2 linked regions of the Homo sapiens genome follow. Changing the gene in region 1 together with any one later gene gives a genetic interaction. Each region holds a gene or a part of one and is shown on either strand. Other genes may lie near its edges.

Region 1 (3,500 bases):
GATATATACCTTCCAGGGTATGCAGAAGTTTTCCAGTTGCAATATCAAAAATATTGATGATTCCATCTATGGCTCCACTGGCTAGGTATTTCCCATCAGGACTCTGTTCAGAGAACATATGGAGAAATTAGCACTTTCAGACTCCGTGTTGTTAAGCTGTCCCTACCAAACACAAGCAAACCTCCTGCTATCTACAGGTCTAACTGGCTACTTGGCAAACCACACCAGTGAGACAGCAGCTGCCTGACCAGACCAAGACAGAATCTGTGGCAAGGACTGCAACAGGCTGGAAGGGTAAACTGAAAGAATCAGAAGGAGAACAGAGAGCAATGTTTCCTTACATATGCAATACTAAGAATGAATTTTCCTCTCGTGTCCAAAGAATATTCCTTTTTCCCACTTTCCACACCAAAAATGTTCACTTTCCCGACATGAGTTCCTGTGGCCAGATACTGGGAATCAGGAGAAAAGGCCAAAGTCCAGGCATCCACTGAACAGAAAAAAGAAGGACAAAAATACAGTGTGAAAAGACTTGGCCTTAATTTTAAAAACTAAAGTTTTACCAAAGGATACATCTTTTTAAATCGGAGTAGCAGTGTCCTGATTCAGAAAATTATGTTGTAAAGATGCTAATTCTTTATCAAGTTTAAATTTAGTTTAAGGGTTTCTTAAATTTTTAATTAAAATAGGACAATATCAAGTGTTAGCAAGGATGTGGAGAAACCAGAGCCTTCATACACTGGTGGGAATGTAAAACGGCACAGCCACTTTGAAAACCAGTTTGACAGTTTCTTAAGTGAAAACAAACACTTACCATGATACTCAGCAATTCTACTCCTAATGAAAACATATGTCCACACAAAGACTGGTACACTCATGGTCTTCGCTTCCTCCTACTTCCTTACTTCTCCACGACTGGGGATTGTCTCTCTTCTCTTTTTCTCTTCCTGTGTGGTGGTTCAGATTCTCCATGCATATTTTCAAGATAGGTAGAAACTAAGTGTCTATTTTCCCTACATTCATTAGACCCAAATTCATCCAAGGAGTTTTACCTTCAGATGAATTTAGCTGCTCTTTAGCTGTCAATAGCAATGCTTGCTTTTGTTACTGGACCAAATAACTGTTGGCTGTTTAATGGCCTGGTCTAGTTTTATGCAGAGTCCTATCCAAAAAGAAAATAAATCCAACTCTCAGACCCCATTCTTCCTTTTTTTTTTTGAGATTGAGTCTTGCTCTGTCACCTAGGCTGGAGTACGGTGGCATAATCTCGAGTTCAAGCTATTCTCTTGCCTCAGCTTCCTGAGTAGCTGGGACTACAGGTGCACACAACCATGTCCAGCTAATTTTTTGTATTTTTTAGTAGAGACAGGGTTTCACCATATTGGTCAGGCTGATCTTGAATTCCTGACCTCAAGTAATCCACCCGCCTCAGCCCCACAAAGTGTTGGGATTACAGGTGTGAGCCACCACACCTGGCCTCTTCTTTTTCTTTCATAACAGTAACCTTTAAAACTTTGCCACACTTGGAGAATATCCAGTAAAAGGTACTGTTTATCAGAGAAAGTGAGCTAGATACATACGCCATCCTTTTACTTGGAACCAATCCAGCACTGATTTCTTCAGCTGCCTTGTGCCCAGGGCTACAACCAGCATGGAATAACACCAGCATTATGAGCCCAGGGAAAGCTTAGGCGCCCAAGATGAAAAGGTAGAAACAGTTCTGTCTCTTCCTCTTTTCTTAAGACCATGCTTATATATTGGAGTCTTAATAGACTTTGCAGGATAGTTTGGGGACCCAAGTCCTCTGTAAGTAATGTAAGCAGGGTAAGGGTACATGTAAAGACAACCATCAGGGGAGTCAGGGTGCGTCTGGGTAGCTTTTTCCAAATACATATCCCACCCCACGTACTCTGAACACTATGATTCAGTGGATCCAAAATATGGACTGGGCAGGCATATTCTTAAAAGAGCTCCAGTGGTAAGAATTACAGACAAGAAATATTGCTTCTGAGGGAAAATGCACTCAGTTTCCAGACAACCCAGCCTCTTTAAAAACTCTGGGACCATCATTCTTTCCAATACAGGAACAGCCTAGAGTGGCTACTGAGCATAACTGGCGGGAGGCGAATCCATCCAGGGCACCAATCAAGGGAACTGTGTTCATGGAACACCTAAGCAGCTCTTCTATCATCAACCCAAAAAGGGGTGTGCCAGAGAAATGCCAGGCTATCTGCACCCTCTAGCAGTTACCACCCATTCTGGCAGAGCAGGTTCTGCTGGGGAATGTTGTGCAGCCATTTATAAGTAAATGTGAAGTTCAAAAGAATCCTGAAATGTCCTCTGCTGCTCCACATTAGTCAGCCTATGACATCATTAATTTCTGTCATCTCAGATGATGTTTACTGAGGCTGATGGACAAGATTATGCTGTTCTACAGTACTTAAAACAAAAAAAATTGATGTTTCTTAAAAGTTTCATATGTATCACATACCAAGAATCACACCCTTTAATCAAAATTAGTAGAGATGACCATGATACAGATCTATAAGGACCCCATGCTTTACATTCTAGGTTTCCGTAAGGCAGTGAATGAATCAGTTCAGAATATGGCAAATAAAGAACCTCTGGAAAATGCAAAATACAGGTCAACGCCAAACCAGCAGTTTTGAAATCCAAAAAGCTCTGGAAACTACAAGCTTTTTCTACAGGTTTACTACCAAAATTCATTTGGCAGCAAAATCTAACCTGAATTGACATAAGGCTATTTATAGCCTTTATTTATCTCCCTTAGTGTAAACATTCATGTTTACTTGCAGAGGTATTAGTCTTTCATTACAGTGCTGTTTCCAGCCCCACTGAGGGTATTATGTGAAATACAGTTCATGCACACATTATCACCCCTCTCAAATCCAAAAAATTCTGAGCTGTAAAACACATTCTATCCCTAAAGATTTTGGAAAAGAAATCATGAACCTCTATTATCTCCCCTACAAGTAAAACTCTTACCAGGTCCTGCATCTATGGACTTTATCTGTTTGCCATTTTCCAAGTCCCAAAGACGAATATGAGCATCAAGAGAGCTGGATGCAGCAATGGGCAGGGTGTGGCTGATGTCCACAGACACCACTCCCAGCTGATGTCCCTCCAGACTCCACTGTAGGTCCAGCCTCTCATCACGCCTTCAACAGGGGACAGAGAAATGGATTTCTTCACAAAGAACACACTTTACCTGGCATCTGAAATTCTGGGTCCCTGTGACTATGCAATACCAATGGTCTATGAAATACAGAATCAGAGAAGAGTTAATGAGCTACAGAACACCAAATGCTGCCAGGTTTTAAATGTAGGACTTTAAGATTTTTTTTTTTTAACTTTAGGGCTTTAATACAGAGTAACAGGAAAACAAGTGGGAAAAATAAGCTGCTGTTTTATACCACCATATTGCTATTGCTTTCTTGCCTAGAAAAAAGTATTTCCCGGACTGCAACTGGAGAGTTCAG
Region 2 (3,352 bases), on another chromosome or scaffold:
CTTGTGGCCTGAGAGCATGTGACCCCAGACGCCCGCGGGTCCTCGGTGGCCCCTAGGCTGCATCCATGGGGGAGGCCTGCAGTGGGTGGCCAGGTCTTCTCATAGAGGGGCTCCTCTGGTCCTCCTGACACATCAGTCGGGAACACAAGCTCTAGGGGCCTCAGTGCCTGCGGGGAGGCTGTGTTCTCTCCATCTCAGTACAGGGCTGCACGCTGGGCTGGCCTGGGAGGACGGTGCACGCCCTGGGCCATGGCTTCCTAAAGCGAAGGGAGCCAGCAGGGGGTGACACCATAGGGCGTCAGAGCTGGTGGCTTCTTGGACACCTGCCGGGGGGAGCAGCTGCTGAGCCACGAGGCAGCCCCCTCCCCTGGAATCCATGGGAGAGGGAGCTGGGAGTGCCTACCCAGTCTGGAGTGTCTGGCCCAGACCCAGCCTGGGTCACTCCCAACTGGGGGCACTCAGCCCTGCCCCGGCCAAGTGGCTGGGGGTGGTGGACGCGGCACTTCCCACTCACAGGAAGAATTCACTCAGACAAGGATGAGGAGGGCTTTGCACAGGCATTTACTCCAGGGGATGGCGGGCCACCCCAGCCCCAAAGGGTTAATGCGTCCTGGGGCGTACAGAGCTGGTGACCTTGGGGAAGGCCACACAATGGACTGCTGGAAACCAGTTCTCTCCTCCCACTGTTGCCTGGGGCTACAGACAAAATGAAGGCGAAAAATGCAGGGGTGGGGGCTGGGTGCTGGCAGGGGACCCAGGGGCAGCCAGGCTGTTGCTGGGAGACTCAGTGCGACATGGGCCTGGCGGAGGGCCCCAGGCCTCCTGCAGTGGCACCAGGTGTCCCCATGAGCGGCCGGCACTCAGGCTCACCTTGAGGGGTACCTGCAGGTGGCAGCCAGAGGTGAGCCCCACGCCTGGGCCAGCCACCCCCAGCCACCTCCCAGACCCCAAGCAGGGGGACAGGGCCTACAGCACACAGGTGCACACATCCAGATACATGATCAGACAGCCACACGCACACATGTGCATACACGTGCACACTCACCACACTCGCCCAGCAACAGGCTTATGCCACATCCACCTCCCAGTCACGACACCTCGATCTTGGCGGAGGTTCCCCCACCTGCCAGGGCCTCTGTGCCAGTGGGTAGGCTGCGGCCGGCAGACAAGGTGCCCTTGGATGGGTGGGTGTGTCCTGGGGCATCCTGTGCTTGCCCCTCAGGGTCCTGCCCCCGGGAGGATTGGTGGCTCCTAGAGGCCAGGAGAGCCCTCCCGGGGGTCCCTGACCTTGAGTGGACCAAGCCTTCACAGCTCTTGACAGGGAGGGAGGGGTCCAGCCCCGGCTGCCGTCCCTGTTCACTGAAGTGAGCAGAGTCGGGTGGGGCTTCCCGGGCTTCAGGGACGGTCCAGCCTCCACGGCTGTGCCTGCTGTGGAGTGGCCATCTCGGGGCTGGGGCTGCACCCTTTGGCCTGGCTCTTTTGCCCTGGGGGTGCTGGCCTCCCCTCACCCTGGGCTCCGGAAGACCGGGCAGGCTTAAGTGTCCCCTCACCTGAAGCTGCAGCTCCAATGCCTGCACCTGTTCCAAGGACTCCATGGTCCTCCTGACGAGAGCTAGAGTGCGGAAGAGAGAGGAGGCCCTGCTGGTCTCTTGGCCTTGGGGCCTGGGAGCCGAAGATAAGAGAACTTTCAGGCCCGAGTCCTGCCCCGGCCCCTGAGCCCCCTTGTTTCCTGTGTCCACTCGGTCACCTGAACCAGCTGTGGGACCTTAATGCCCACAAGGAGCCCCTGAGTGCCCAGCCCCTGAGGCTGAGTCCAGCTCCCCCGGCCCCATCCACAGTCCAGGATGCCTCTCGCAGGCCCCTTGGCCCTCGCTGCAGCCCCTCCTCCTGGCCTGGCCCACCACACTGCACTGGCCCTCACCCCTACCCCTCCGGCTCAGCTCACCCCAGCTGGGGGCCATGGGGTGGGGCAGGCGTCATGCCAGCTCTGTTCCAGAGCCACTGGGGCTGGGAGGATGGGGGAGGCACAGGGAGCCCCCACCAGCCAGAGCCACCAGGCACACAAGAACCCCCCATCCCCACTACTGCCCGGTGAAGTTTGAGGCAACAGTGGCTTTGTGCCACAGGCAGGCTGACCCCGTTGTTGGGGCGTGGATCACCATGCAGCAGTGGGGCTCAGAGCCCTACGAAAGGGAAGGCCTGGGCAGGGGCCAGAGGTGGGACCCGCAAGCTCAGGCTTTCTCAGGGCTTGCTCTGAAACCTGGAGCCCCTGGATAAACATTCGTTCAGTCCTTTTGTGCTGTGTGACACTGCAATGCAAAGATGGCGGCAGGAGCCCCAAGCCGTGGTGGGCGCCACCTCACTTTCCAGCCCTGCTGGCCCCAGCAGAGCGAGGGTCTCCCTGGGGACCTGTCCCTGGTGTGTCCTGAGCAGGGCCAGCGGCCACCCAAGCTCTGTGGCCCTCAATGTCTTCTGTGCAGGAGCCGGTCACCGTCTGCAGGGAGCTGTCGGCCAGCAGGTGGGCACACGGCCCATGTGCATGGTGGGGAGCCCTGCAGAAGGACCTGGGCCCCCCTGGGGACCTTCTTATGGGGGCGAGGCTGGAGAGCCGGCCCAGGCCAAGCTGGACCATTGGCTCCTCATGCTGGCTGGGGCTACCCTGAGTATGCAGAGAACTGGTCCCTCTTCTGTGCCTGGTGGGGTGGTGCTGTTGACTGAGCGGGTGATCCCAAGCAACTGCTGCTCAGAGAGGGGCAGCAAGCGTGGGGCTGAGCTGGCACTCAGCTGGAGCGCTCCCTGTGGGGCCCTCGGGAGGGCAGGCAGGGCAGAGATGCTGGGCGCTACACACCGCCTGGGAGATATGACCTGACCCCCAGCCCTTCAGGGATGGTGCAGGCCCCGCCCGACCCCTGGTTCCCCAGGCCCTGCAGTCCCTGGCCCCGAGTGCTCCTGAGAGAGCAGAGCACAGGCTGCAGCCTGCCTCAGGAGCTGCCAGGCCAGCTGGAGGAAGCTGCTCCCGGGAACAAGGCCGTTTGGGAACGTTTTCTTTCCTTTTTTAACCTACAGCTGAGCACACGTTATACTTGTTAAATGGTCACGTAAGGTGGGTGTGTTTTCAAATGAGTGGCTGGACATACTTTTCAAGTGGCAGAGCCCTGCTTTAGGATGGAGTGGTCTGGGTGGGCCCCAGGGATGGGAGCCTCACACCCCTAAGGGTAAGGCCTGGAGAGGGTGGGGCTAGGAGGGCATGGCGACCACCACTCGAGAGTTGGTGCCTGAAGCTTCCAGCCCTGACGCCCCCGTGCCTCTTCTCCCAACACGTGAAGCTGCCCCGGCTGTTTACAGACCTGGC

The links.
Region 2: changes in SKIC8 (region 1) and POLN together harm fitness more than expected from each alone (negative genetic interaction), as found in Homo sapiens cells (one large-scale study listed by BioGRID).

Annotation. Positions count from the first base shown.
Region 1 is NC_000015.10:78,289,610-78,293,109, forward strand, and holds part of SKIC8 (superkiller complex protein 8), read right to left. Parts: intron 3,180-3,500; coding exon 3,007-3,179; intron 491-3,006; coding exon 342-490; intron 104-341; coding exon 10-103; intron 1-9. UniProt on the Homo sapiens protein: Component of the PAF1 complex (PAF1C) which has multiple functions during transcription by RNA polymerase II and is implicated in regulation of development and maintenance of embryonic stem cell pluripotency.
Region 2 is NC_000004.12:2,071,418-2,074,769, forward strand, and holds the end of POLN (DNA polymerase nu), read right to left. Parts: intron 1,613-3,352; coding exon 1,551-1,612; intron 883-1,550; coding exon 697-882; 3' UTR 501-696; downstream 1-500. UniProt on the Homo sapiens protein: DNA polymerase with very low fidelity that catalyzes considerable misincorporation by inserting dTTP opposite a G template, and dGTP opposite a T template. Is the least accurate of the DNA polymerase A family (i.e. POLG, POLN and POLQ).